Regions from separate parts of the Homo sapiens genome. Here regions 1, 2, 3, 4 and 5 are each reported to be linked to region 6. Evidence: microRNA targets listed by miRTarBase, many of them from high-throughput screens and not tested one by one. Region 6 holds a microRNA gene; each other region holds the end of a gene's coding sequence.

Evidence for each region. The annotated mature microRNA hsa-miR-5692a reads CAAAUAAUACCACAGUGGGUGU and lies in region 6 at 1,402-1,423, opposite strand. An mRNA with a match to its seed (bases 2 to 7 or 8) in the 3' UTR can be bound and repressed. Matches are read on the target gene's strand: a 7mer-m8 pairs with bases 2 to 8, a 7mer-A1 pairs with bases 2 to 7 and ends in A, and an 8mer does both.
Region 1: miRTarBase lists PLCG1 as a target of hsa-miR-5692a. Seed matches in the 3' UTR shown: 7mer-m8 at 986-992 and 7mer-A1 at 1,019-1,025.
Region 2: miRTarBase lists ZNF611 as a target of hsa-miR-5692a. Seed matches in the 3' UTR shown: 7mer-m8 at 3,700-3,706, 7mer-A1 at 2,904-2,910, 7mer-A1 at 2,900-2,906, 7mer-A1 at 2,896-2,902, 7mer-A1 at 2,892-2,898 and 7mer-A1 at 2,629-2,635.
Region 3: the mRNA of TFCP2L1 is a reported target of hsa-miR-5692a. The part of its 3' UTR that is shown has no 7-base or 8-base seed match.
Region 4: the mRNA of SPRED3 is a reported target of hsa-miR-5692a. Seed matches in the 3' UTR shown: 7mer-A1 at 3,041-3,047, 7mer-A1 at 3,045-3,051, 7mer-A1 at 3,049-3,055, 7mer-A1 at 3,053-3,059 and 7mer-A1 at 3,057-3,063.
Region 5: miRTarBase lists SLC5A7 as a target of hsa-miR-5692a. Seed matches in the 3' UTR shown: 7mer-A1 at 4,082-4,088.

The regions. Positions count from the first base shown.
Region 1 is chr20:41,174,162-41,179,236 of GRCh38, forward strand. It overlaps PLCG1 (phospholipase C gamma 1), which reads left to right. Exons shown (of 32, transcript NM_002660.3): 31 at 1-150; 32 at 306-3,465. The coding sequence ends at 348. It overlaps ZHX3 (zinc fingers and homeoboxes 3), which reads right to left. Exons shown (of 4, transcript NM_001384317.1): 4 at 4,294-5,075. Among named protein-coding and RNA genes, the nearest start is that of MIR6871, 7.7 kb to the left of the region's middle.
Region 2 is chr19:52,700,284-52,705,358 of GRCh38, forward strand. It overlaps ZNF611 (zinc finger protein 611), which reads right to left. Exons shown (of 6, transcript NM_001161499.2): 6 at 2,530-5,075. The coding sequence ends at 4,654. Among named protein-coding and RNA genes, the nearest start is that of ZNF611, 32 kb to the right of the region's middle.
Region 3 is chr2:121,219,667-121,224,741 of GRCh38, reverse strand. TFCP2L1 (transcription factor CP2 like 1) reads left to right here. Exons shown (of 15, transcript NM_014553.3): 15 at 355-5,075. The coding sequence ends at 401. Among named protein-coding and RNA genes, the nearest start is that of TFCP2L1, 63 kb to the left of the region's middle.
Region 4 is chr19:38,395,188-38,400,262 of GRCh38, forward strand. It overlaps SPRED3 (sprouty related EVH1 domain containing 3), which reads left to right. Exons shown (of 6, transcript NM_001394336.1): 6 at 293-4,400. The coding sequence ends at 958. Among named protein-coding and RNA genes, the nearest start is that of FAM98C, 5.4 kb to the right of the region's middle. RefSeq lists a silencer at 4,972-5,075.
Region 5 is chr2:108,010,490-108,015,564 of GRCh38, reverse strand. SLC5A7 (solute carrier family 5 member 7) reads right to left here. Exons shown (of 9, transcript NM_021815.5): 9 at 1,571-5,075. The coding sequence ends at 4,704. Among named protein-coding and RNA genes, the nearest start is that of SLC5A7, 27 kb to the right of the region's middle.
Region 6 is chr7:97,960,013-97,965,087 of GRCh38, reverse strand. MIR5692A1 (microRNA 5692a-1) reads right to left here and starts at 1,430; the gene lies at 1,362-1,430. All of the region lies in intron 1 of CZ1P-ASNS (CZ1P-ASNS readthrough), which reads left to right. It overlaps MIR5692C2 (microRNA 5692c-2), which reads left to right and starts at 607; the gene lies at 607-683.

The sequences.
Region 1 (5,075 bases), not on the chromosome of region 6:
CCTGCGGGAGCGGGGCTCAGATGCCTCAGGCCAGCTGTTTCATGGCCGAGCCCGGGAAGGCTCCTTTGAATCCCGCTACCAGCAGCCGTTTGAGGACTTCCGCATCTCCCAGGAGCATCTCGCAGACCATTTTGACAGTCGAGAACGAAGGTGAGGAAGATGGAGGGGTGCTAGAGCCAGGAAGGCAGTGGCTAGGTCCTCCTTCTTCAGTGTTTCTTTCTCCTGGGTAGAAAAGTTGTAATATTGTCTGGCATTGGGCTGCAAGGCCCTGCCTGCCAGTAAGGACACTCTTCCCTTCTGTCCAGGGCCCCAAGAAGGACTCGGGTCAATGGAGACAACCGCCTCTAGTTGTACCCCAGCCTCGTTGGAGAGCAGCAGGTGCTGTGCGCCTTGTAGAATGCCGCGAACTGGGTTCTTTGGAAGCAGCCCCCTGTGGCGGCCTTCCGGGTCTCGCAGCCTGAAGCCTGGATTCCAGCAGTGAATGCTAGACAGAAACCAAGCCATTAATGAGATGTTATTACTGTTTTGGGCCTCCATGCCCCAGCTCTGGATGAAGGCAAAAACTGTACTGTGTTTCGCATTAAGCACACACATCTGGCCCTGACTTCTGGAGATGGATCCTTCCATCTTGTGGGGCCAGGACCATGGCCGAAGCCCCTTGGAGAGAGAGGCTGCCTCAGCCAGTGGCACAGGAGACTCCAAGGAGCTACTGACATTCCTAAGAGTGGAGGAGGAGGAGGAGCCTTGCTGGGCCAGGGAAACAAAGTTTACATTGTCCTGTAGCTTTAAAACCACAGCTGGGCAGGGTGAGAAGCTAGATGCCCCTGCAGTTTGGCCCTGGAGCCAGGGCAGAGGAATGTAGGGCCTGCATGGAGAAGGGTTCTGCCCTGCCTGAGGAGGAGGACACAGCACAAGGGCACATTGCCCATGGCTGGGAACATGACCCAGCCTGAAAGATACAGGGGATCATGTTAAAAATAGCAGTATTATTTTTCGTCTCAATGGTATTGTAACTAAGTTATTTACTCCTCCTGCTCCTCACCCCTGTAGGGAAACCTTGGAGAGGAGAGTGGCAGGTGGGCTGCCTGCTGTGTTAAGAGGACTTAGTTTGTGATGTAAGGCACTGTCAGGAATGGGGGGCGGGCCAGGGTGGGAAGAGAAGAAATAGCAGAGCCTATTTTGGTGAGGTTTTTTGTTTTTAAGTCAAAGAAGACTCAGTATGCTTTCCCTGAGGAATGAAAAAGGGATTGAGGAGTTGCCTGACTCCTGGGTGGGTGGGGTACAGGCAGTTAGGTGCTGAATGAAGCTGCCATCCTTGCTGCAGCTTCTAACTGGTAAAAAGATCCAGGGATGGAGATGGGAAGGTTAGAAAGGCAGCCCTCACCTCTGAGGACAGAGGCCGGGGTCCAGGCCCGTGGGCGCAAAGGTGCCTCATAGCATAGCCAGCATTCAGCACACACAAACCTACTGCCCACATTTGGGCTCAGGGTTGGCCATTTGCTAGTTCTGCTGCCCTCTTAAGATCTGACTGCCAAATAAATCATCCTCATGTCCTTTTTCCTTTGACTTGTATGCTCTTTCGGGGGCTCAGGAAAGCCTGTTGCATGGGACATGCTCACTAGAAACAGTCGCCAGATGATTATTCTGCAGTAGAAGCAGGTAGGAAATTTCTGGAAATTTCTCAGGTTAAGCAGCAAGAGCTGTAACCCCTCCTCTGGGCTAACAGGAGTTGTGGGTCCACTCTCTCCTGCCCACCCTCTGAGGGTGTGTCTGAGCAGAGTACATCCTGCCTGGGTTCTTTGTGGCCAGCCAGTTTTGGTGGTGAGCTGGAAACAACCAGAGCCCCTTTCCAGTTCCACAGAAACCTCTCCTTTCAAAAATGTTGCATTCAGTTCGTTAACACTGCCAGGTGCCATTCTGATTGCCTCTAGGACTTGGCAGCTGAAATCTCTGGGCCCTTTCAACACAGTTGAAAGGCCCTTCTCTTCCTGAAGCTCTGTTTCCATAGTTGGCTGTGCTGGGATGGAACAAAAATGACGCCACACAAAAAATTTAAGATAGATCCGGTTCCGTGGATGACATGAACTGATGATAGCCAGTATCAAACAGCGATAGTGCTCAGGTTCTTGTGTGACTTTCTTTTACAGCTTCACAGTCCCAGTTCATAGAGAGGAGGGTGGCTTTTTCCCATACACAAGAAGGTGGTGGGTGGGAATTCACCTGGGCCCTCATGATCCATGTTTCCTCTCTAGGTTTTTATGGCCTGGAGAGAAAGGTTTCCTATCAGAGAAGGAAGAGGACTGTGTAGGCCCTTCTGTTAGGGCCCATCCACGTTGGTTAGGACGTCCTTGGCGTGTTTGTTAGTGTTGACCCTTTTAGTTTTCATCAATACGTATCTCTATTTGCTGAACAAGTGTCTTTCTGGAACACAACCTGGGGAACAGACAGCTCTGCCTTTCTTAAGGCAGCTTTGTAGACCTGAGGCTCACCTCTCTTGGGCTCTGTAAGACATTGCCTTTGCCTCACTGCAAATGTTTTGATTGTTCTTCCTAGTGGAAAACGTGCCAACTCTCAAGCAAATTTAAAGATCATTTTCACTTCAAGATTCCTCCAGACCTGACAAATGTTGATTGACCCAGAAGGCAGAGTGTTTGTTGGTGGGGAAGACCCTTACTTGGGGCCGAATGCTTTGGCATCAGGAGTTGTTTGCCCCATCCCATGCATGCAGGCCGTGTCCCTACAGTGCGACAGCTCAGGGTTATGACCTGTGGAGTCTCAACCCTAACAGCACATTAGCACCACTTGGGGAGCTTCTGAAAAATACTGGTACCCGGGGCCTTAGCATAGGTATTGTTCAAAACCTCTCAAGGTGATTTAAATGAGTAACAAGGGTTGAAAAACCCTGATTTTGGCAGCACAAACCAAAAGAGCAGGCAGGGCCGGGAGAGGGAAGTCAGTGGTACCAGAAGGTAGATGGGCTCCCTTGCAGGCTCCTTGTTCTCCTGCCATCACCAGTAGAACCTTCTGGCTGACAGACCAGGGACAAGTAGACTGGGTTCAAAGTGACAGACCTTTCACTTTCAACAGCTTTGGCTCAGCAGACATGTACACATACAAAGTAGAGCCTACAAGGTCAGGGGCATTCTGCCCCCGCCACAGGACTAAAGACTGCCCTGCGGGAAGATGGCAGGAGCAGTTTCTGACCTCAGTTGAGTATCTGTGGCCATGAGCAGAAAAGGCAGGGGTCTGCCTCCTGACCAAGCACATCTTGAACATCACCTGAGAGCTTGAACATCACTAAGGACCTAGACACTCACTTGTCTTTCAACTTGAGCCCATCACTCACCATGTGAGTTCTGTTGAGGGTGGGTAGAAAGCAAATAGGTTCAGGTTATCCCACCAGACTAACTCGGTGAATGAAAGGATCATGCCTTCTTCACATTTTAATTAAATGGATCAAGCACAGTCTCAGACTGCAACTCCTGTCTTCTCTGGGTACTTTAGTAATTCCCAGGGGACTTGTGCTTAGGGGTTAATCTAGGCATTCTGTTCCCTGCCTGGAGGAACCCCACAGCAACCCCCCTGGCTGGCCGCTCCTGCGAATTCCACCCATAGTATCCCAAGTGAGTCACTGCCTGAGTCTACCCACTACAGCATTCAGCTGATTGGCTTTGCCAGTTGCATGCCAGTTTGGTCTAGTTTCCAAGGACCTGGTTTTTGGGATTCAACACACACAGCTGCTTCCCCATGACATAAGCTGGACTCCTATTCTGGTGTCCAGAATCACTGCCTGGCTCCACTGTAGGTGATTTCATTTCAAAGGACCCTTTTTCCTTCTGTCCCAGGCCTTCAGGGCCACCCCAACAAAATTCAAATGCTTTGGGTCTTAGAAGCTGGGGCTTTAGTCTTTTTCCTCCAGAAAGCCCCTGGGTCCTTATGCATATTCCCTAACCCCCGACACCGCCCCAGCAAATGACAGGCTATGCTTTTCAGCACTCTCACAGGAAACAGAAAAGAACTTGCCAGTGTCCTCTCACCAGATGATACCAGGTTTGACTGTTTGCCTTTGTCTATTTAGCATAATTTCTAAAATATCATAGTTTTCTCATGTAGAAGCCAGTGTGGTGATCTCAGCAATGCAGAAGACAGTGAGTTGGAACTTCTCTGGTGAGCTGAGGGAAACTGCCCCACTCATCCACTGGAGTTTAAGATCCACAGAAGTGGGCAAGAACAAGTGAAATGTTTTTGGCTTTTTTCCTGACTCCCCCACAAAATAAGTCAGCAGATGTGAAATATATTTATGTTTTTATTTAGGAATAATCAAAAGGTTTGAAGTACCATTGAGGCCCATTTCAAATTGTACAAGCAATTTGTCCGTGTTCCCCTCCCTTATCCAAATCCACAGATACAAAATCTAGGAAATGTGCAATTTGCATCTTAGAAATAGCAGCATCCCCACAGGGGACCTCGTGAGGCCTGGAGATTCAGCCCCAAGAGGGCAACCCCACTCCTGCCTCAGCACGACCACAGTCCAAACCGAAGTTAAGTTCCATTTTTTTGTTAAAACGTTTACCCAGGGTAAAGAATTCCCATTCTACCCAAGGCTTAAGTGATAGAGTATGCTGTTTTCTCGGTTTGGTCTCTCACACCTGGCCATGGCAGGAGATGGGACCCTCTTGCAGAGTTTGGCTAAAGTTTCATTGTGCCTCAAAACAAACAAAAACAGGGCAGTTGCCTCTTACTTGTTTAGCACCAAGATGATCACCTTTTCAGCCATCTCTCCTGACAGCAGACTGCTCAACAGTCACTCCCCAGTCTTATTGCCCAGAAGTCCGGCCACAGGGAACAAGGCTTTGTGCTGAAGACCAAAATGCAAATGGGTGCTAGAAAACCAGGAATCAAGACCTTGTCAGGAGGCATCTACAGGCCTTTGGCAACCTCCCTGACTTCCACAAAGGCTGCCCTCAGTAAAACTCAATGAACAATGGCCAGCAGGGGAGAAAGGAAGGTGGGCGTGTTTTCTCTTTAATAACAATTATGGCACAATCTGACCCTCCTAACACTTCTGAACAAAG
Region 2 (5,075 bases), not on the chromosome of region 6:
GCCAACATGGTGAAACGCTGTCTCTACTAAATACACAAAAAGTAGCCGGGCTTGGTAAGTGTCTGTAATCTCTGCTATTCAGGAGACTGAGGTAGGAGAATTGCTTGAACCCGGGAGGTGGAGGTCGCAGTGAGCCGAGATGGCGCCACTACACTCCAGTCTTGGTGACAGACAGACTCAAAAATAATATAAAATGGAAGTTAAAATACAAAAATTAGCCGGGTGTGGTGGCAGACACACCAGCTACTTGGGAGGCTGAGGCACCAGAATTGCTTGAACCCAGCAGACAGAGGTTGCAGTGAGCCAAGATCAAGAGGCTGCACTCATAGGCTGAAAGATAGAGTGACTCTGTCTCAAAAAAAAAAAAAAAAAAAAAATGCATTTCTGATGTGATTGATGCAGACAATGAATCCTGAGTAACGTGATACAGACTGATGGACAAGGGAACTACAGCCGGGGGTGGGAGGGCATGGGCGACAGCTCTGAGCCTAGACCTGAAGGAGGAGAAAGTGACAGGGTACGTAGGGTAAAACCAGGGACAACGACCTGAGACAGGAAGGGTTTTGATGTTTGGGAAAAGAGAAAAGCAAATATGACTGGGGCGGAGAGAGTCATGAGATGAGGGCAAGCTCCCAGGAGGAGGCTGGACAGTGGAAGGGGCCCTGGACACAGGGCTGTGGAGCCACAGTGAGGGGTTGGGCTTTTGTCCTGGGGAACACGGGAAGCTGGTGGAGGGTTCCCTGTCAGGGACTGACATGACCTGCTTTAGATTTTGTTGTGATGTCCTCATACAGAGAAAGGCCCCGAAGATGGTCTCTGTGTCTGAGTCTACCTCTGTTTCTTCCATTCTTCTGCTTTTGTTTTTCATTTTTAGGGCACTGCATCCCATTGAAAATTCTAATCACAACTGGGCACTCCTCTCCTCAAAAAAATTTAAAAAAAAAGCCACACCCACACACGCACTCCATTTTGTCAATCATTTCAGGGGTCAAAGTCACTAGGGTTGAGCTTTTCTGGTGTAGCCCCTCATCGCCAAGTTCCAAGGAGGCTCACTGGGGCTCAGATTGGAAGACATTTTCACCAAGTTGCCCTGAGAAGGTCTGAGATGAGTGAGGTGTGCCTGAATTCTTACATGGGGGCCTGCAGGGACTAATGGGAAGGGTTGATCTTATCACCCCCATCCTGGAAAATTAGAGAAGGCTCTTTCACAAACCTGGGCTAAAGAAATTTCTTTTGCCGGGCACGGTGGCTCAAGCCTGTAATCCCAGCACTTTGGGAGGCTGAGGCGGGTGGATCACCTGAGGTCAGGAGTTTGAGGCCAGCCTGACCAACACGGAGAAACCCCGTCTCTATAAAAATACAAAATTAGCTAGGAGTGGTAGTGCATGCCTCTAATCCCAGGTACTTGGGAGGCTAAGGAAGGAGAATCACTTGAACCCGGGAGACGGAGGTTGCAGTGAGCCGAGATCGTGCCACTGCACTCAAGCCTGGGGGACAAGAGCGAAACTCCGTCTCCAAAAAAAAAAAAGAAAAGAAAAAAAAGAAACAAACTTCTTTTGCAAGGTTCTGAGGCCATTGACTCCTGACAGTTTGTTCTTCCTTACAAGAAAATCACAGTAACATTTATAAAATGCAGAGTTGTGAACACATAGCTATTGACCTTGGAAACAGGGAAAGAAGGTCAGGTGTACAACTAAGACATAAGCAAATTGTTTCAATCAAGAATACATGAGTGGTCAGGCACGGTGGCTCACGCCTGTAATCCCAGCACTTTGGGAGGTCGAGGTGGGCAGATCACCAGAAGTCAGTAGTTTGAGACCAGCCTGGCCAACACAGTGAGAGCCTGTCTCTACTGACAATGCAAAAACCTAGCCAGGAGTGGTGGAGGGCACCTGTAATCCCAACTACTTGGTAGGCTGAGGCAGGAGAATCACTTGAACCCAGGAGGCAGACGTTGTAGTGACACCAGATCGCACCATTGCAGTCCAGCCTGGGCAACAAGAGCAAAACTCCATCTCAAAAAAAAACCCCCAAAAAAACAAAAAGAAAAACAAAAAAAAAACCGAGGCTGGGAGCAGTGGCTCACACCTGTAATCTCATCACATTGGGAGGCCAAGTCGGGTGGATCACAAGGTCAGGATTTGAGACCAGCCTGACAAACGTGATGAAACCCCGTCTCTACTAAAAATACAAAAATTAGCCAGGCATGCTGGTGGGTGCCTGTAATTCCAGCTACTCAGGAGACTGAGGCAGGAGCATCACTTGATCCCAGGAGGCAGAGGTTGCAGTGAGCTGAGATTGCACCACTGCCCTCCATCCAAGGCGACAGAGCAAGATTCCATTTCAAAAAAGAAAAGAAAAGAATACACGGGTGCTTTTGGAGGAGCGTTCTATGCCAATCCAGCCCATGTTTCAACATTTTTCCAGAATGGACCAGAGGGCCTTGAGGGAAACACGCAATAAATAGCTCCCAGATCAAGATTTTAACAAAGGACATAAGGAAAGAAAACTGAAAAACAGACTAACTGGTTAAAGTACATTTTGATGTTTAGTTAAAAGGCCACTGACATATTTACCAAGTACACACTGAAACAATCAAACTTAAGTTTAGGTACCAAAGGTTTTCAATAAATAACAAAGACTAGAAAGCATGCAGACATTGATATGAACTGGATGCAACTAATTTAAAACAGCAACTATTTTGAAATTGTTTTTTAAAAAAATCTAACGAATTCTGGGGTCAACCGGAAAATAACTGGAAAATATACAAGTACAGAAACGAATGATGTGAGCTGATTATAGGATGCTGCAAAGGCATCTTTCAGAAGTCATTATGTATTAAGAAATACAACTTTTATAACTTAGATTTATCTCAAACTCAAACTGCAAAATAAATAAATAAATAAATAAAAAATAAAGAGAGAAATGAAGAGGAACCAGAAAGAAAAAGAAGGAAGTCCATTATACGAGAAGAAAAGCATTTTTGAGGTCTTTTTTTGTTATTTTTTGTTTGTTTGAGATGGAGACTCACTCTGCCACCCAGGCTGCAGTATAGTGGCACAATTTTGGTTCACTGCAACTTCTACCTCCTAGGTTTAAGCAATTCTCATGCCCCAGCCTCCCAAGTAGCTGGAACTAAAGGTGCACACCAACACCCCCGGCTAACTTTTGTATTTTTAGTAGAGATGGGGTTTCACCATGTTAGGGTGCTTTTGAAATTGTGACCTTAGGTGACCAGTTCACATGGGTCGACCAAAGTACTCTGATTGCAGGGATGAGCCACCACGTACCGAGGCTTTGATATCCTTTTTTTTTTTTTTTTTTTTGAGATAGACTCTCACTCTGTCGCCCAGGCTGGAGCCCAGTGGTGCGATCTCGACTCCCTGCAAGCTCCGCCTCACAGGTTCATGCCATTCTCCTGCCTCAGCATCTGGAGTAGCTGGGACTACAGGCGCCAGCCACCATGCCCAGCTAATTTTTTGTATTTTTAGTAGAGACAGGGATTCACCCTGTTAGCCAGGAAAGTCTCGATCTCCTGACCCCGTGATCTGCCTGCCTCGGCCTCCCAAAGTGCTGGGATTATAGGCATGAGCCTCCGTGCCTGGCCTCATATCCCTTTTAAAAATTACTATGATATATCCCTTTCAAAAAGTACTAACTGAAAAAAGTACTATCTCTTTAAAAAGTACTGGCTCAAAAAAATAATAGAAAATAAGAAACAAAAAACAGGCTGAGAAAAGTGGCTCACATCTGTTGGCCATGCTGGTTTCAAACTCCTGACCTCAAGTGACCTATGTGCCTTGGCCTCCCGACGTGCTGGGATTACAGGTCGGAGCCACCACACCTGGCCCCATCCTCTTAACATAAACACTTGAATGTCAATAAAGGCTTGAACTCAATGTTAAGTCAACACAAACTCAAGTCAATGCTGAATTGACTCCAATGTCAATTAATGCTTGATGGTTTGCTATACTCATTTCATTGGGAACGGTTATCTCAAAAATGAATTTTCTGATGTTCTGCATGGAGTGATCTTGGACTGAAGACCTTGCCACACTGATGACATTTGTAAGATTTCTGTCCAGTATAGATTCTCTGATGTCTAATGACGTGTGAACGTGAAGCAAAGGCTTTGCCACAATCATCACACTTGTGAGGTTTCTCTCCTGTATAAATTCTCCTATGTTTTGCATAGGATGAAGCTTGACTGAAGACCTTGGCACAGTCATGACATTTGTAAGGTTTCTCTCCAGTATGAGTTCACCGATGACCTGCAATATGTGAACGATCTCTGAAAAATTTGCCACATTTATTACACTTGTAAGATCTCTCTTCATTATGGATTCTCCAATGATTTGTAATCGTTGTAGCATTACTGAAGACTTTGTGACAATCATTACATTAGTCAAGTTTCCCTACACCATGAATTGCCTGATGGTGAATAAGTGTTGACTGCTTGCCAAAGGCTTTGCCACACTCATTACACTTGTAAGGTTTCTCTCCAGTGTGAAGTCCAGTATGTTGTTCCAGGTGTGAATCACTCCCAAGTCTTGTCAGAAACCTTACATTTGTAAGCTTTCTCTCCAGTATAAATTCTCCTATGTCTTTAAGGTGTGATTTCCAAATGGAAACTTTGTCACATGCTTCACATTTCTAAGGTTTCTCTCCAGTATGAATTCTATGATGACGTGAAAGGTGTGATTGTTGATTAAAAGCCTTCCCACATTCATTACACTTGTAAGGTTTCTCTGCAGTGTGAATTCTGGTATGTCTTGACAGGAGTGAATTACGCACGAAAGCCTTGTCACAAATTGTACATTTGTAAGATTTCTCTCCAGTATGAAGTCTACGATGGTATATAAGGGATGAGCAGTGACGGAAGGTATTGCCACACTCATTACACTTGTAAGGTTTCTCACCACTATGAAGTCTACGATGGCAATGAAGGGATGACCTGCGACTGAAGGTCTTGCTGCACTCATTACACTTGTAAGGTTTCTCACCACTATGAACTCTATGATGGCATACAAGGTATGACCTGTGACTGAAGGTCTTGCTGCACTCATTACACTTGT
Region 3 (5,075 bases), not on the chromosome of region 6:
CAAAGTGCTGGGATTACAGGCGTGAGCCACCACGCCCAGCCACCACCAAGTGTCTTTGGGGCCTTGGGGGCCATAATATCCCTGAGAACCACAGTTGTCCAAATCCTCCTTGGAACGTAGGTTTTCATCCTTGGGCCTGGGGCTATGGTAGAAAGACCTATTGTTAAAAAGACACTAAACGAGGCAGATGTCAGGGCATGTGAGATCCCTGCTTCTGCCAGCACGCTTTGCTGTATGCAGCCCTATTTTGGTGGTCTTTGCTGATACCCTAACAGCGTGCCTTTTGGGACTCCCCAATACTGTGGCACTGCACCTTTTTTCCTGTGAAATACACCCAGTGTTTCTCTCTTGCAGCTGAGAGCAATGATGGCTACCACATCATCCTGAAATGTGGACTCTGAGCAGCAGTGGACCTCATACCTGTCTCCAGCTCCCAGCCCTGTGGATCCCCGTGGATGTAGACATTGCCCCACTGTAAGCTGTGGCCTCACCAGGCAAGCTGAGGCCAGGAGGGACCCTGCCCAGTCTGTGAAAGCTACAGAGCACCAACCAGCAGAAGCCTGTGGACACCAAGTACGGTGTACAGAAAGCCAGTGGCTCCTTTCTCCCTTCCTCTTGGCCTCCAGATTTTGAATGGTTCCTTGTTCTTTTCTATTGGTCCAACCCTGACGTTCTAAAAGGGCAAACAGTGGAGACGTCTGCTCTGAAATCCCTCATCCCTTAGTTGGAAGCTGATTGGGTATCTTGGTGCTGCCTGTATTGGTCCCTTCTGACCACTCTCCTGCCTCCAGAGAAAGCTCTGCTTCACCCTGGAAGCTGGTACCTTTACCTCCTCCTCTGGGAGTTGGCTGCATGGCCAGCACTGCCGACTTGATGGGAGCAGTTTGCCCTCATTCTCCTGTTTCAGGTTTGCTTCCCTTCTCAGTGACCCTGGTGAGCATCCGCCTTTCCTGTTCTTGGATGAATTGATGGGAGTGGGGCTATTCTGTGCCTTCTACCTCTTTCTTCTCTACGTTGTTTCTAAGGATCTGCTGCTGCGGAACCCAAAGATGTGCTCCTGTCTCTGCACTGGCGCATTGGCATGGTAGATGCCACAATGTATGTGCACGGCCTTTCTCAGAGACATTAGTTCTGAGGCCCTTTGTGGGGAGGTTAGGGGGATGGTAATAGAAAAAGACTATTTTATTTCCTGGCAATCACGGGTAAGGAGGATTAGGAATGAGTATTCCATTCCTAGGTGTCATCAGATGACCTTGACCACCACAATACCAGGCCCTCTTGGATGGACTTATAGAAAGTTAGAGAAGACCTTGTTGAACCGCTGCTAAACTTGCCACAGGAGCGATGTGTTTTCTCTGAGTGCCCCTCACTTACATGTTTATCTTTGTTTGTAGAGGCTATGTTTAGGATATTTTGCCTGCATCAGAATGGGTGCATCATCTTTCTTAATGGCCTAACTATCGGGAAATTTGAGTGTCAGTAACTGTGGTAGACTCAGAAATTCGTCTTTGTCTTGCCTCTGGTTCCTGGGATCCAGTGATCTCTACTGGCCCAGGGCTTCAGCTCTTGGTTAATTTAGGTTCATGGGGAACCCTCTGACCACCTGAATGGGATGTCATAGCTTCTAAATGGAGCTTCTGTGGAATGAAGTGCTAGACTGAAGGACTACCAGAATAAAACAGGGTCTACAATGGGGAGAACTTGTTTTATAGATGAGGAAACCAAGGCTCAGAGGGGCAAAGTCACCTGCATGGTAGCACATAGTGATAGGGTAGCGATATAAATTTATCATATAAACCAGGACATCTCGGAATAAAAGGGGCTCTGTTAGTCATTATGTTGGGTAATAGCCGTGGCATTCCTACAGAACAGAGTGAGGACAGGCTCCTGATTCCTCTTCCTTCTTTAGAGGAGAAGCGGGGAGTGGGTTAACTAACAGCTTTATTGAGATGTCATTCACATGCCATTCAGTTTACCCATTGCTAGTGTCCAATTGTATTCACAGAACCACCATCAATTCACAGAATTACAGTCAACGTTGGTACATTTTCATCACCCCCAGTAAAACCCCGTACCCTTGGTCTGTCACTCCTGCTTTCCTAACTCCTGCAGTCCAAGGCAGCCATGAATCTACTTTCTATGTAAGATTAACCTACTCTGGACATTTCATATATCTGGAATCATGTGATATCTCTTTTGTGACTGGCTTCTTCCACTGAATGTTTTCTAGGGCCGTCCAAGTTGAGGATGTATCAGTACTTCATTCTTTTGTATTGCTGAATAATACTTCATTGTATAGATAGACCACATTTGTTTATTGATTCATCAGTTGATGGACATTTGTGTGTTTTTACTTTTTGGCTACTCTGAATGATGCTGCTATGAACATATTTCTACAAGATTTTGTGTGGACATATGTTTTCATTTCTTTTAGCAATATACATAGGAGTGGAATTGCTAGGTCTTACAGTAACTCCGTGTTTTAACTTTTTGAGAAACTGCCAGACTGTTTTCTATAGCAGCTGTACCATTTTACATTCCCACCAGCAATGTATCCAGGTTTCAATTTGTCTACATCCTCATCAACACTTGCTATTATCTGTCTTTTTGCTTTTAGCATCCTAATGAGTATGAAATGCTATCTTGTGGTTTTGATTTGCATTCCCCTGATGGCAACTGATGCTGAGTGTCTTTTCCTGTGCTTACGGGCCATGCGTATTTCTTTGGAGAAAGGTCTATCCAGGTCCTTTGCCTATTTTTAATTGAGTTGTCTTTTTTTTTTTAAGTTTTCTGTTTTCCTAACCACTAGACTACCAGGGATGAGCCTTCTTTTTATTATTGAGTTGGGTGAGCTATTTGTATATTCTAGACGCCAGTCTTTTATCAGGTATATGACTGGTAAAAATGTTCTCCCCTTCTGTGGATTGTTTTCAGTTTCTTGTTGGTGTCCTTTGAGACACAAAACTTTTTAACTTTGATGATTTCCAAGATACGTATTTTTTTTCTATTGTCACTTGTGCTTTTGGTGCCATATCTAGAAAACCATTGCCTAATCCAAGGTCAAGAAGATTAATGCCTGTGTTTTCTTCTAAGAACTATACTTTTAGTTCTCACAATGGTCTTTGATCCATTTCGAGTATATTTTTATATATGATGTGATGTAGGGGTCCAGCTTCATTCTTTTGCTTGTGGATCTCCACTTGTCCCACTGCTGATTATTGAGAAAAATATCCTTTCTCCACGGAATTGTCTTGGCATCCTTGCTAAAGGCCTCTGCTTCTTACTGGATCTTCTTTCCTGGGACATGGTGTCGTTGGGAAGCTTACCTTTTTTTTTTTTTTACTTAGTCTGTGTTTGGTTCCACCAGTTTTATGCTGCCTTTCTACTCTGTTCTTGCTGTCTCCCTCTTTACCTGAGTCAACGGTACTGAGTCCTATCTCTCTCTGATGTTCCCCAGTCTTCCTTGGTGCATGTTCTAGCTCCACACACTAGTCCTTGGAGGAAGGTTGAGACCAATGATTTCCTGTTATGAGTCATGAGGAAACTGAATCACCTAGAAGTGGAATAATGTGCTCAGGGTCACCATAGCCCATTAGTGGAAGGACCAGGACTAGACCTTTAGTCTTCTGAGGTCCAGCCCCTTAGGCTGTCTGTCATCACTGTACCCAAGTGATGTCACTACCAAGGCCAAATGATGGTGGGCTAAATTTTAATTCTCAAAAGTGTAGGAGGCTAATATTGTCTTCTAAGTTCCAAAAGAAGATGTAATAAAAGTCTGTTACCTTAAGTGTGCTATTAGTAGAGTCTTCCATTTTTCTGGCATGCCCCTGGCATCTGCTCTTCTTACCTTCTCGTGGTTGTAGTTAAAGCTTATAGCTTATGAAAGAATAGAAAATAATAAATACCAAAAAAAAGTACACATGGTAATTTGGTACCAAAATATCTCAGCTGCCTAATTTAGCAGCTCATCCCTTCCACAGGGGTCAGATGAGCTAAAGCTCCAGGTTTTATTTTTCATTTGATTGACATACAGAAAAGCCATAGCCCTTCCCACAGCTGTCCAGGGTCTTTCCTGTGAGTCCGGAGGTGCTGGCCTATTGAGCAGGACAGCTCTTCCCAGGGCATTCCCACCAACCTGTGGCTTCTGAACTGTAGCTTCTTTTTACAGTGAACCCCAGAGGGAAATAAGACAGACACATGTGCTCAGGCCACCATCTTGAACTGGAAGCCCAAAGCTGAGTTCCTTACTCTTAGGTCGTCACGGTTTTTGCGGGGTATCTGCAAGGTTGAGATAAACCCTTTCCTGTTTACCAGGTTGTCCTTTCTGGATGAAGGGACAGAGGCTGTTGAATGGAGGAATAATAGGTTTGCTGGAGGAGGGGCATGGTATGCCTGTGGAAAGGACAGGATGGGGTGGGGAGGTCGAGGCTTTGACTTGGGGTCCTAAACAAAGGTCAGGTGTTGCCCTAGTGACCTCTTGCCCAGACAGCCCAGAGCCCCTTACACAGAGCTATTAACCTAGGGAAGGCTTTACCAGCAGTGGACTGGAGCCAGCCAGGGTCACAAGTTTCCAAGTCCAGCATTGCTTCAGGGGCTGGCCTGAGTAACTGAAGATCTGAAAATCATTAACAAGTCGATGAAATAAACGGAAAAGCCTCTTAGGCTGTTGTCAGTGGAGCAGAGGGAGAAAGTCCCTAGGCGCTCAGAGGGGGTGAGAAAGCAGTGGATGATTGGGCGGGGGTGGGGGATTAGATGTTGACACTGCCTGGGGTGTAGGAAGAGGAACAGAGAACCCAGAGTCAGGGTCCTAGATCCCAGACCCTCGCTCAGTATGAGTCTCTTTGCCTCTCTGGGTCTCTATCTCCTCCTCTTACAAATACAGGCTTGGTGATCTCTGAAGATGGCACCAACCTGCCATGAAATGAATCTGAGGGGTTTTCCCATTTTTCCCTCCATCAAAATCGTACAAAAAGCTGGACGTGGTGGCCCATGCCTCTAATCCTAGCATTTTGGGAGGCCGAGGTGGGAGAATCACTTGACGCCAAGAGTTCGAGACCAGCCTGGGCATCGTAGTG
Region 4 (5,075 bases), not on the chromosome of region 6:
TGGGTCCAGAACCCCTGGATCTCAAGGTAGAGGGGGCTGGGAGCTGGGGCTCTTGGATCTTAAGAGAGGACAGGACTAGGAACCTTCGGCCTCTGGGTCCTTAAAGGTGTGGGGTTGGTGCGTGGATTCCTCTGTCTGTCCCTGGAGAAAAGTGGGGATTGAGGGACCTTGGGAGAGAAGCAAGCTGGGGTCTTGAAAATCTGAATCCCAGACCCAAGAGTGCGCTAGGGAACTGGATCCTTGAGGCTAAGACTGGGATGGATTCTGATCTGTTTGTCCCTTCGTTCCGCAGAGCTACCCTCCGCTTCTACCGTTCACGGGGATTCCGGAACCCTCAGAGCCCCTGGCAGGGGCAGGGGGCCTGGGGTGGGGCGGCCGCGGCTACGAGGATTACCGGCGCTCCGGGCCACCCGCGCCCCTCGCCCTGTCCACCTGCGTCGTGCGCTTCGCCAAGACCGGCGCGTTGAGGGGCGCTGCCCTGGGTCCCCCAGCGGCACTACCTGCCCCTTTGACCGAGGCTGCGCCCCCAGCGCCCCCCGCTCGCCCACCCCCCGGCCCGGGCCCATCCTCTGCGCCTGCCAAGGCCTCCCCGGAAGCGGAGGAGGCAGCGCGCTGCGTGCATTGCCGCGCGCTCTTCCGTCGCAGAGCAGACGGGCGTGGCGGCCGCTGCGCAGAGGCCCCGGACCCGGGTCGCCTCCTGGTGCGCCGTCTAAGCTGCCTGTGGTGCGCCGAGAGCTTGCTCTACCACTGCCTGTCGGACGCCGAGGGCGACTTCTCGGACCCGTGCGCCTGCGAGCCGGGCCACCCGCGCCCCGCCGCGCGCTGGGCCGCGCTGGCCGCGCTCTCCCTGGCAGTGCCCTGCCTCTGCTGCTACGCGCCCCTGCGCGCGTGCCACTGGGTCGCAGCGCGATGCGGCTGCGCCGGCTGCGGGGGTCGCCACGAGGAGGCTGCGCGGTGAGGACGGCCTGGTGGGTCCCCTAGCCGGCCCGAGGACCCAAAATTGAGGGTCCAGGACCCCGGACTCCGTTCGGACCTAAAACCCAAACCTAGGCACATCCGGAACTTGGAGCTTGAGTTTGGATTGAGAGATCTCAGACCTGGAACCTGGAACCCAAACCTAGGACTGAGAGACCCCAGCCCCAGCTTCATTGGGGTGTCTGTCTAAGAAGTCCCAGGCGTCCTGAGTTCTGGCGTTCCCCCACCCCCACACCCCACGAGGAGGCTCCAGGCGTCCCCATACTTTGCATCTCAGAAAGGCCAGGGAGCACATAGATCCCGAAAAGGGCAGGTCCCTGTTGAAATGAACAACCTAGAACCCGGTCACGCCTGGCACCATGTCCCTCAGATTACAGCCCCACAATTAGTCAGGACTTGCCCATAACTGGCTCTGCCTTTATTCAACTCCCAGATCAGATCTTGAGACCATAGGACCTGGAGTCACCCACAAACAGTTCCTGAATATTCACCTAAGACCTGGTGCCCCCACATCTGAGACATTCTCATAGTCCCAGGACCCCTGAGACAGCAGGACCCCTGAGAAAGTTTCAAACAGAGTTTGAAACTCTGTTATGCTCTGGAATCTCCAGATGCTGCCCCTCAAATCTACCCACGACTTAGTGCCCACAGACCTGGCCTCCAGTCCGGGAACACTGAAGTCTAAGATGTCCAGGGAACTCCCAGACACCCTGGGACCCCAGACTCTTAAGATGCACTGAGTGCTCGGATATACTGAAACACGAGCTGTTCTCTTACCAAAATGACTTGGGAGACCCATCCCAGAGCCCCCAAGATCCAGATATCAGACACCAAGATGCTCTGGAAGCCAGGGATCAAAGACCTCCATAGGTCCACCCACCCCCAAGCCAGGGTTCTCAGGAGCTTTGGATATCATTTATAGGACTCAGAGGTGCCTGGGGTCCTCAGATGTGCGACTGAAGGCCACCAACACCTCAGGACCCGAGATACTGGTCTCGAGTTCTCAAATAGCCCTCTCTTGCAGTCCCTCCTGGACCTGGATTTTGAGACCCCAAATGTCCTGGAATCTTCAGCTTCTTTCTACCCACAGATTCCCAACCCCTTAAGGGCTGGGAGTCCAGCTCCCAGAAGAGGGGATGCTCATGGTGACCCAGACCTCTGATGCCCTTGGCCCTCAGCCCTTGAGTGACCCTAAGGTACTTTAGGAGCACTGGATCCAATACCCCAAAGGTGCCACTGACCCCCAAATGCAAGGCTCAAGACCCTACAACATTGGGATTGTTCCTGATCCAAGACCTTCATCCCTCCATACCAGAGGCGTTCAGATTCGAGGTGCCCCAAGACCCCAGCACCCTCAGACCCCAGATTTCTTTGGATTCAAACCTCTCTAGTCTGATGAACCCCAAGTTGCCTCTACACCTGATTCCCCCATCCCCACTTGTCGGACCTCAGAGACCTGCTGCCCCTTGAATCCTGTCATCCATAGGCCCCTAAAACCCCAAGGTTCCAGCCTCTGGAATTCTGGTCCCAAGGATCCCAGCCCAAGCCCCCAGCAATCCTCAGAATTACCCCTTTATCTTAGGGTGGGATCCCTACCATTTGGAACTCATTGTAGGACCACCCAGGGTGGGGCACAGTGGCTCATGCCTTGTAATCCCAGCACTTTGGGAGGCCAAGGGAGGAGGATCGCTTAAGGCCAGGAGTTTGAGACCAGCCTGGGCAATGTAGTGAGACCGTCTCTAAAAAAAAAAAAAAAGGACCAAGTAGGAGCTCCCTCACTGTCACGTCTAGGACCCAGCATTGTCACAGATGATTATGCAGGGTCTTCATTAAGTGAAGGCACACAGCCCAGGGTTTCGAGGAGCTGGAAGTCACACCAGTCTGCTGGCCACACTGTGCCCTCAGAAGAAGTGTGTGCAATGGAAACTTTCAGGCTAGTTATGGCTCTGCTGTCCCACAGCCCCCAGTCTTGCAGACCTTCCTTCAAGCACAACCTTAATTCCTAGTCCAGGTTCAAGTCCCACCTTTTATGTTCTCCCCCTCCATTAACCCCTTCTCTTCCTATTTATTTATTTATTTATTTATTTATTTTGAGACAGAGTCTCGCTGTATCACCCAGGCTGGAGTGCAGTGGCACAATCTCGGCTCACCACAACCTCCCCCTCCCGGGTTCAAGCCATTCGTCTGCCTCAGCCTCCCGAGTAGCTGGGATAACAGGCATGTGCCACCACACCCAGCTAATTTTTTGTATTTTGAGTAGAGACAGGGTTTCACCATGTTGGCCAGGATGGTCTCAAACTCCTGACCTCATGATCCACCTGCCTCAGCCTCCCAAAGTGCTGGGATTACAGGCATGAGCCACTGCACCTGGCTCTCTTCCACTTTAGAGTGAGAAGTTGCTTCAGGAAGTTTGAAAGCCTGTTTCATGGCCCACTGAGTCTCTTCTGTGCAAAGGGGGGTGCCACAGGCTTTTTTCCCCCAAGTGAAATGGGGCTTCCAGTGGATCGAAGATCTGGTGTCCTGTATGGGGGCCTCAAGGTCTTGGAGCAAGACAGTCTCAATGTTGTATGGGCTTGGGACCTGCATCTGGCCCCAAGCATCTGGAACTGTGCACTTAACCTTTCTTCATTACCCAGACTTGGATGGCCTTGTTGGGGTTCAAGGGATAGGTCCTCTGTCTCTTCCTTTAAATTATTAACTATTTATTACATCCGGAACCTGTGAGATTCAGCACTCCCAACCAGACCCTGGGATGGGTGAGAGAAAAGCGGGGGTGTCTCTCCCCTCCCCACTCTGCCCAGCTCTCATCACTGTCAGACCCACCAGAGCTGAGGGCGGAGGGATTGGGGGCTGGGGCAGCCTGGGTCCCCATGCCCCTCTCTGTGCCTCGGTCTCCCCCCTTCCATGGTGGGCGGGGGGGAAGCTCCATTCTTAACCTACCTCGTTTTGGGGAGGGGTGGGACGGGGGACCAGAGTGCTGTACGGTGCTGTGGGATCTGCAGATGAAGCGGTGGGGGCTAAGGAAAGGTCCCCTGGCCGCCACTTCCCAGCAGCGCCTCTCCCAGGTCCCCCAGTCCTGCTCCCTGCTGAGACCCACCTCTGATCCATGATTCCCCTTCATTGCCCCCAAATCAGGGGTACATGGAGGGCCGCCCTGGGAGCCAGGCAGACCTCAGACCCTGGAGCCCCCAGGCCCAATTTCCCAGCCGCTTGCCCCTCAGATCGGATGCTTGGCCCCCAGATTTGGGGGAGGCACCCCAACATATATCTTCCTGATCTTGTTTCTAAGCCAGTCTGTGACCTCAATATTGTTAGTGTCAGTGCAGGCTGAAGTGGTGGGGGAGGATGGGGGCCAAAGACCCAGCCTTGTCATCGGGGGAGGGGGCACGAGATCTGCTCCAAGAAATGTCTGTGACAAAGTCTCAGCCTGTGTTATTTATTTGCCTCTGTGCACCCCACCCACTCACCTTCCTGAACTGCTAAACCAGTCTCCTACTTAAATTCTCCCTTCTCCCATCAGACCCTCAAGCTGAGTTTTATAAGACACTCAACAAATGCATTTATTGAGCACCTAATTATGTGCCAAGCCCTGTTGAAAGCACTGGAGATAAAGCAGTGGGCAGAACAGACAAAAGTCCCTCCTGCAAAGAGCTTATGAGCTTTATAGTAGGGGAGACAATAAGTAAATGACTTAATATGTTAGAAATGATAGAAAGCAGAAAGAAAAAAAAAAGTGGGAATGGGGGATACATGCCATTTTAGCTAGAGTGGCCAGGTTAGACCCTCCTCAGGAGTTGGCATTTGTTGTTTTGAGACAGAGTCTGACTCGGTCACCCAAGCTGGAGTGCAGTGGCATGATCTCTGCTCACTGCAGCCTCTGCCTCCTGGGTTCAAGTGATTCTCCTGCCTCAGGCTCCTGAGTAGCTGGGACTGCAGGTGGGTGCCACAACGCCCGGCTAATTTTTGTATTTTTAGTGGAGTCAGGGTTTCACCATTTTGGCCAGGCTGGTCTCGAATTCCTGACCTCAAGTGATCCACCTGCCTTGGTCTCCCAAGTGATTCCAGGTGGAAATCTCCCAAGTGATTACAGGTGTGAGCCA
Region 5 (5,075 bases), not on the chromosome of region 6:
AAAAAAAAAAAAAGAAGACTTACAAAAATAAAAGAGATCCAGAGAGTTTCAATAATTCTCCCAGCTCCGTCCATTTTCAGAACCCAAAAGAGCGTGATTCCTGGCCCCATCCTTCTACTGTATTCTCTTCAGCTCCACGTGTGGCACTGCACTATCAGAAGCTGTTTTCAATTACTTCTTTCAGTAATACCTACTGCTCTAAATTCTATCACTGGACTTTTAGTCTTACCTGGTTTATGCTTTTAACTGCCTCTATATGACAAACTGATAAATCAACACAGCAGTTTGGCTTCAAAATACATAATGCAATATCTCTTTTAAATAGATAACTATAGTTTTCCAACCAAAAATAAAGGCAGAATCACCACATATTCTCTGACTTTAGAGAATTTAAATAAGATACAATGACTGTTTTTACTGTTTTGTAACTTTTCTTGAGGTGACAGTATAAAAATTGGAGAAACCATAATTATCATTATCCCATAGCTTTCTGGATCTCTCTCAAGAATGTCTGTTCTAGGAGAATGTTAATGATCAAATTTAAGCTCTCTAGATACAATGGTTAAAATGAAGATAACGTCCACGGGCCCTAATATTATATTCTGATACAGTCTCTTTTCTGGCTCTTAATAATTCCCCCCACACTATAGATTTGTGATAAAGCAAAAATGTATAATCTCCAGAAGTGTGTCCACAAGACGACAACTCGATGTGATGTTGCCCTGGCATACCTACTTATTCTTTCCTTCATTCGTCCCTACACTCATTATAGGCCCTTCTGCCCTATATACATCCAAAGGCACTAATGCTTATTATAATTAAGGTATGAAAGGCCAAAGTTCTTCTGAGAATGTATATAACTACATGTCTAAAGACATCTTGAGAGAGTAAGATGAGAGATACAGAGCACATAGTTGGAGCACAATGACAGCCACTTGTCACTTAGAGATTGACTTCATACAACAACTGTTGGTCAGCTGTTTGGTTTGAAAAATGCAGATCTTCTTTATGTGATTGGAACGAATATAATTGGAATCACCTGGCTGACTCAGTCAGTAAGCATGAGACTCTTAATGGATATTATTCTATTGATTTCTTTGATTTACAAAAGACCTGTGTACAATGGTAGAATGTCTTTTCCAAGAAAAACAATTTACATTTGTTTTTGAGCTATGATATATATTGCCCCAAGACTTACGTGAGGTGCAGCATTTCCACTTGGCATTTGCCTATCCTCCAGTAATGAGATGGTTTATTTTGATTTCATTGCATAATTGTCTTGAAGCACCATATATACTTAGTTTAAGAGAGGGCCCCCAAAAGCCAAATTTAGACAATGATACCCTAAATTGACCAGCACAATTTAATACATTGCCATTACACTTAAAGCATTTACACAGTTGCAAATATACTTATTTTAAGCATAATTTTATATAATAATTTGACAGACAAAAATATATGTTCTAGAACCATTATATGCATCTGTCTATGAAGTAGCAAACGTACAATAAATTACACATCATACCAGTGTAAATTTACATGAAGGCTAAAACAGAAAAAGAAATCATAATTTATGTTTAAAATATAATGTTAATTTATTATTTCCAAGTAAAAAGAGGAATAGCCATTTTATTAGATTCACTTATTTTAAGCTTATATTCGTTTCATAGTCACATAAAATTCATTACTTGTAAGTGTAGCAATGAAGTTGTATTTTGATGCTGTTTGAAACAACTTGTTGTTGATATTGCAGTCCAGCTACAAGCTTGCTGATTTGAATATGTGTGGGAAAACAAAGCATTTAAATTACTCAAGAAATATGTTACAATCATATCAAAAGTATGAAAATAAAATATATGTTTTCTTCTAATGTTTTATCCACAGGTGTTGCCTTCCCAGATTAATATAGCCATTGTCTAAATGTTTCGTTTATTTTATTTTCATCTGAGGGCAGATTTTGAAAATCAGGTCTACTGATTGAAGCTGGAAGAACATGTAAATGTCTGCATTACTCATTATGTCAAAACAGAGCACATGATGGGTACAAAGTATACTCTTGCACATTTCACAGCTTTGTGATACAACTGTCTTGGAAATTGGGTGGAAATTTATGCACAAATGTGCATAAGTAAAGACCTTGTGACCATTGTTTCCTTCCTTGCAATCTTAAACTTTTTTGTACTTAAAAATCATCTTGCTAACATTTAGCATATTTGTGGATTAATAACAAACTAGTCTTTTGTATACCTACTTTGAGGGTAGGTGAGGAATAATGGGTTAAATACAATATAATATTATTTATTGGCTTAAATTATTTAAGTTATCTAGTTTTAGTACTTTGAACAGGGCAAACATTTTCCCCCTGTTTCTGTCTATTGTGAGAAATTGAATTACGTGGAAGAAATTTTTACTGTTAACCTTTTTTTCCCCACTGGATTTAAGTGTGGTTGTTGGGACAATTGTTGCCCAACAGAATGGTACAACGTAAAGAGAGAGACCTGTAGAGAGACTATGCCTCCCTGTTGCATTATATGACAGTATGAGTGAGGTGTTTCCTGATGCACATGGTGGAAGTCTGTGCCTCAGCAGGTTGAGACAGATGCTCAGGGTGACAGGATGGATAAAAACCGCCATTCAGGTAGCATGCTGGGTAGCATGGTGCATCTGGAATAATGGTGTTTGCCAGGAATTGTAGTCTCCAGCAATTAATTACTTTTATGTGTCAAATGTTTCAGTATCTGTGGTTTTTCTTTAATGAATTTCTTGCCCCTTTCTCTTTTTTCAATCAATACCTGAGAATCGTGGACTCCCATACTTACTGGTTCCAAAAATATACTTCTTCCATGTACTCCATAGGGTACTGAATAGATTCTGAGAAAATAGATGAATATAAGTAATTCTCTTTTCATTTAGATACATATGATATTCAGTGAAGATTTTGAATGCAATGTAATATTCACCATCAAATTTTGAGAAAGCACTGAAAATATGAGACATGTAAAATTATTTAATTTCCTCTTTTAAAAATTATCCTAGACATTAAATTCATGTTTAATGATAAAGATGTATTATTTGATGCTTTGAGACAATTACAATTAAATCTTATAAAAGGAATTCTAGGGTCAAGGTACAACTTTTATTTTTAATGCTAAACACTAAGTTAACTTCATTTTGTTCATGAGTTGCAGAAGTATTTTTGGAAAAGAAGTGCTTTAGTTTCAACAATTCAGACTCACTTTCTTTATGGGATCAGATTCCCTGATCACTTTTCAGCTCATCACTTCACTTTGCTTTTGTAGACATGGCTCCAGTAATTTCTATAATGTGTGACTGGTGTGAAAACACTTGAAATGGACACAAATCATTACACATACACACACACACATACACACACACACACGTATGAGTGTGTATGTGTAACACCAGAAAAGGAGCAAAATAGTATTTAATGACCAATCTCATGAATGTTATCTAGACATCAAATGTTAAAATTGATGGCTTCTTCACTTTAGGACTTATTTTATTTTTTGCTTTCTTCTACATTTTAAAATTCACTATGTACTTTTTGCAGTAGTTATTTGTCTAGTCTCTAAGGCTGGCTTATGTGAAAAAGTGCCAAAGAGTAGATGCTGTAACATTAAATCTTTCCTATTAATGAATATCTAAAAATTAGTAGAGTTTGTTTTTTTCTAATTTTACTACTATCAGGAGGTGTTGTGGAGGCTTCCCATAAAGTATTCAATGAAATATACGTAAATTTAGCAGTGTGCCTCTCATTAACCGTAACAGATGCTGTGTAGCTACCTCTCCTTACATAAGGCCTAATTTCACTTCCAATATTAACTTATGTATTAATTTATATGTTACTTATTTTATCATGGGGCAAAACTTTATATACTTGAGATAAAGACAAAAATGTACTGTTCTTCCTATTACCTTCTGTTTAATGAACTTATTGCTTTAAGGTTGCTTAATAATCCTTCAGGTACTGTTGTTTATGCATATAGTAGCTATGGAAACATACAAATTAGCCCAGTGCTCTTCTACAAAGATGGATTCAGTTTTCCTATCACCTTGCACATAAATAAATGCCAATACATAATCTTTTGTGTGTTTTCTTTGCCCGTGCTCAGAATATTACATGCCATTAATAAAAGAATAACAAATTGCATATTCAGCAAATGTTATAGCTCAGAACATGAAAGAAGGGGTTAATCATCACACTAAGAAAAATCAGCTGGTTAATTCATTGCACCATTCAAGGGAGTGACTGAAGTTATTCTCATAGCTTCGTGCTATAATGAAACTAGACTCATCAGTGCATTAGCAAACAAAGTTTGTATCAAAACTGTCCAATTTCCTTTTTCTTAGGCTTTTTCACATCTACTTCCTTTTATCATAACAAATATAAAAACTCTATTTGGCCCTTTGTTCTCTAAGTGGAACTTTACTTATTTTTTATACCTAGCAAAACTATCTAGCATCAAAATCAATACTACTATGGATGAGAAACAAAGTTGTTGCTTTCATAGGTGCTTCCTTCTAGCTTGGCTTGTATTTGTGCAATTGCACTTTATATGAATTTTTACTCTCCTGAACATTGTTTATATTTTTAATATATTTTTGTATGCTGCATACCATCTCTCCAGAACTACCCTATTACAGTGTTCTGTTTGCAAAAGCAGTATTTTATTTAGATGGGGTCACTGTAAATTATCTTCAGTCCCAGACCCTTCTGGACTGGAATCAACATCAAGGAAGGCCTCTTTATTGGTGAAAGTTGAGCTGAGGGTCATGCTCTGTCGTGGCTTCACAAGTGCAAGTTCATCTAATTTAATATTTTCATTTTTGACAAGAATTGTCTTATCCATGTTTTCTTCACTGTGTCTTGCAACAACAGCATCAAATACATCTAATTTAGGTGGCAAGGTTCCACTTTCAAATAGATACTTGGCTAGATAGGAGATGCAAATGTTGGTTAAGAATGATGTAACCATGGCAAGTGTTTTAAATGGAAATTTCTGATTATATATACCATTATCATCAGGGTAATAGCCAGGGTAGAAGATCAAGGG
Region 6 (5,075 bases):
CCCTGTGACAATAGTAACATTCCCCTAGAATATGACGAATAATATCACAGGAGGTACAGCCCCTGTGATTTACGAGTAACATTTCTATATAATATTACACGTCATAGCACTGTGTGACTCTGTGTACACCCTGTATGACATTAGGAGTAACATCCCACAAAACAATTACGAATAATATCACAAGGTGAACACCCTCTGTGACATGAGGAATAACGTAGTTTTAGGATATTATGAATGATATGACAAGGTGTACACACCCTGTAATGTTAGGAGAAATAGCCGTCTAGGATATTAGGAATAATGTCACAGGGAACACACCCCCTGTGACATTAGGATAATACGAATGATATGCCAAGATGTACACGCATTGTGACATTCGTACTAATATCCCTCTGGTATACTATGAATAATATCACAGGGTGTACATCCCTGTGACATTAGGAGTAACATCCCCCTTGAATAGGAGGAATAATATCACAGGGGGTACACACCCTGTGACTTTAGGAGTATCAGCGCCCTGGAATATGAGGAATACTGTCCCAGGGTATTAACCACCTGTGACCTGAGGAGTAACATCCTGTTGGAATATTACGACTCATATCACAGTGTGTACACCAACTGTGATATTAGGAGTCCTATTTATTTTTAGGATATTAGGAATAATATCACAGTAGGTGTACACAAATAGTATGTACGCCCACGGTGATATTAAAAGTTATATCTCCCTAGGGTATTCCGAATAACATCACAGTGGGTGTACACCCACTGTGATATTTGAAGTCATATCTCCCTAAGATGATAAAAAAATCAAAGGGTGGACCCTGTCTGTGACATCAAAAGTAACATCTCTGTGGCTATTCCGAATAGCATCACAGGGTGTACACAGCCTGTGACGTTAGGAGTAGCATCCCCATAAGATATTCCGAGTAATATCACAGGGTGTACACCCCATGTGACATTAAGAGCAACATCTTCTTAGGATATTACGAACAACCTCACAGGGTGTACGCCCCCTGTGACTTTAAAAGTAACATCCCCCTAGAATATTAGGAATAATATCATGGGTGTACACCCCGTGTGACATTAGGAGTAACATCTCCCTAGGATATTACAAAGAACATCACTGGGTGTACGCCCTCTGTCTTATTAGGAGTAACATCCTTCTAGGATATGAAGAATATCACAAGGCGTACACACACTGATATTCGGAGAGATATCTCCCTAGGATATAAGGTGTATCACAGAATGTACACGCATGGTGTACACCCACTGCGACATTAAAAGCAATATCTCCCTATGAGAGTATGAGAAATATCAAAGGGAGAACACTCTCTGTGATATTAGATGTAATGTTTACCATGGATATTACAAATAATATCACAGGGTGTACACACATGAGGTACACCCACTGTGGTATTATTTGTACTGTCTTAGATATAATTCTAATATAACACGGAGAGCTATAACTCTGTAGTATCTGAGATATTACAAATAATATCACAGTCTACACATAGTGTACATAGTGTACACCCACTGTGAGATTTACAGTAAAATCTCCCTATAAGACTACAAATATTATCGAAGTGTGTGCACCCCCGTGACCTTAGGAGTAACATCCTTCTGGATATCAGGAATCATATCATGAGGCATACACACCCTGTGACATTTTGTACACTCTTTGTGACATTCAAAGTCACAGCCCCCTAGTATATTACGAATAATATCAAAGGCGGTTGATGCACACGGTGTACACATCCTGTTACATTAGGCGTAATCTTTTTCTGTGATTTATGAATATCACAGAAGGTGTACACACATGCTGTACACTCCAGGTGACATTAGGAGCAACACCCCCCCAAGATATTAGAAATAATATTACCAGGGTTGCATACACATGGTGTACTCTCCCTGTGACATTAGCAGCAACATTCCCCTAGAATATTACGAATACCATCAGAGGGGGTGTACACACATAATGTACGCACCTTGTAAAATTAGGAGTAGCATCTCCCTACGATGTTATGAATAATATCACAGAAGGTGTACGCACATGGCCTATACCCCACGTGATGTTAGGAGTTACATCTTTCTAGTATGTTAGGAATAATACCACAAAGGTGTTCACACATGGTTAACAGCATATGGAATATTAGGATTAACATCCCTCAAGAATATTACAAATAACATCACAGGGGCTGTGCACACATGGTGCACATGCCCTGTGACATTAGGAGTACATTTCCCTGGCACATTGCAAGTAATATCACAGAGTGTACACCTTCTGTGACATTTGGAGTAACATCCCCTAGGATAGTATGAATAATATCACAGGGTGTACATCCCCTGTGACCTGAGGAGTAACATCCTTCTAGGACATTGTGAATAACATCACAAAATGAATGCACAGCCCCTGTGACACGAGGAGTAACATCCACCTAGGATATTCTGAATAATATCACAGAGAGTACACCCCATGTGACAGTAGGAGAAACCTCCCCCGAGGATATAACGAACAAATACAGAGGATGTACACGCGTCGTGTCACTAGCATTAACATCCATTTAGGATATTACGAATATTATCACAGTGTGAACGCCCCCTGTAATATTAGGAGTAACATCCCCCTACAATATTGGGCACCATATCATACGGTGTACACCCCCTGTGACATTAGAGGTAACATTTCATTAGGTTATGATGAATAATATTACAAGGTGTAAGGCCCCTGCGACATTTGGAGTAACATTTCCATAAAATATTACGAATAATATCACTGTTTGTACACCACGGGTGACATTAGGAGTCCCAGCCTCCAAAATTATTATGAATAACTTCACAGGGCGTACACCCTCTGTGACATTAGGAGTAACATCTTTCTAAAATATGACGAATAAAATCAAAAAGTGTACACCCCATGTGACATTAGAAGCAACATTGCCCGAGGATATAAGAAATAATATCAGATTGTGTACGTGCATTGTGACATCAGTAGTAACATCCCTTTAGGGTATGACGAGTATTATCAGAATGTGAATACCATCTGTAACATTAGGAGTAACATCACCCTACAACATCGGGAATAATACCACAGGGTGTACACCACCTGTGATATTAGTGGTAATATTTCTTTAAGATATTATGAATAATATCACGGGGTGTACAGCCCCTGTGAGATTAGGACTAACATATCCAAAAAAGCTTGACAAATCATATCACGGTTTATACACCAAGTGTGACATTAGGAGTAACATCCCCCAAAACTATTATGAATAACTTCACAGATTGTACACGCTCTGTGATATTAGGGGTTCACATCTTCCTAGAATGTGAAGAATAACATCACAGGAGGAACACCCCCGTGATATGAAGGGTAACATCACTCTAGGATATTACGAATAATATAACAAAGTGTACCCAATTTGTATGGTAGGAGTAACATCCCCTGGGATACTACAAATCATAGCACAGAAAGCGCAGCCCCTGTGACAACAGGAGGAACATCCCCTTAGGATATTATGAATAACATCACAAGGTGTACACACATTGTGACATTAGTAACAATAGCCAGCTAGTAGATGGTGAATAATATCACAGCGTGTACACATTTGCAACATGAGGAGTCACATCCCCCTAGAATATGAAGAAGAATATCACAGGGTGTACACACCCTGCGACTTTACGATAATCATCCCCCTGGATGACTACAAATAATTTCACAGGATGTGAAACCCCTGTGACAATAGGAATAATATACTTCTACGATATGACAAATAATATCACAGTTTGTACACCCACTGTGATATTAAAAGTTATACCTCCCTCAGATATGGTGAATAATATCACAGGGTGTACCCTCTGTGGGATACTAGCAGTCATGTTTACCATGGATATTACAAAGAATATCACAGGTGTAAACACATGGGGTACGCCCACTGTGATATTAGGAGTTATGTCTCTCGAAGATATTAGAAATAATATCCCAGTGGGTGTACCCCATGTGTGTACACCCACTATGATACTTTAAGTAATATCTCTCTATAAGATTACAAATAATATCGAAGGGTGTACAGCTCCCGTGACATTAGGAGTAACATCCCCCTACAATATTGGGAACAATATCACATGGTGTACACCCCTGTAACGTTAGGGGTAACATCCCCCCAGAATATTACTAATAATATCACAAGGTGTACACGCATTGTGACATTAGTAGTAATATCCAGCTAGCATATTTTCAATAATATCACAGAAGGAACACACGTGTGACATTAAGAGTAACATCCCCCGAGAATACTTAGAATAATATCACAGGGTGTACACCCCCTGTGACATTAGGAGTATCATCTCGCTAGAATATTATGAATAATGTCACTGGGTGTTATCTTCTGTGACATTAGGAGTATAGACCCCTGGAAAATTATGAATACTTTCACAGGGTCTACACCCCTGTGACATTAGGAGTAACATCCTTCTAGAATACCACGAATCATATCACAATGTGTACACCCCCTGAGTCATTAAAAGTAAAACTGTCCTAGGACATTACGAAATAGAACACAGGGAGTACACCCCGTGTGACATTAGAAGTAACATCCCCCTAGGATATAATGAAGAATATCAGAGAATGTACCTGCATTGGGACATGAGTAGTAACATCTTAGGATAATACGAAGAATATCAAAGGGTGTACACACATTGTGAAATTACTAGTGAACTCCCGCAAGGATATTACGAATTTTATGACAGGTCCGACTCGCCCTGTGACATTAGTAGTCACCTATTCCTACAATATTATGAAGAATATTAAAGGGTGTATAGGACCTGTGACATACGAGTAATATTTCTAGAGAATATGACACGTAATATCACCGTGTGTACACCCCGTGTGACATTAGCAGTAACATCCCACAAAACTATAACGAAAAATTTGACAAGGTGTACACCCTCTGTGACATTAAAAGTAACATTTCCCTAGAATATGACGATATTATCACAGAGTGTACACCCTCTGTGATATGAGGAGTGACATCTTCTAAAAACAATACAAGGAATTTGACAGGGTGTAGAAAACCTGT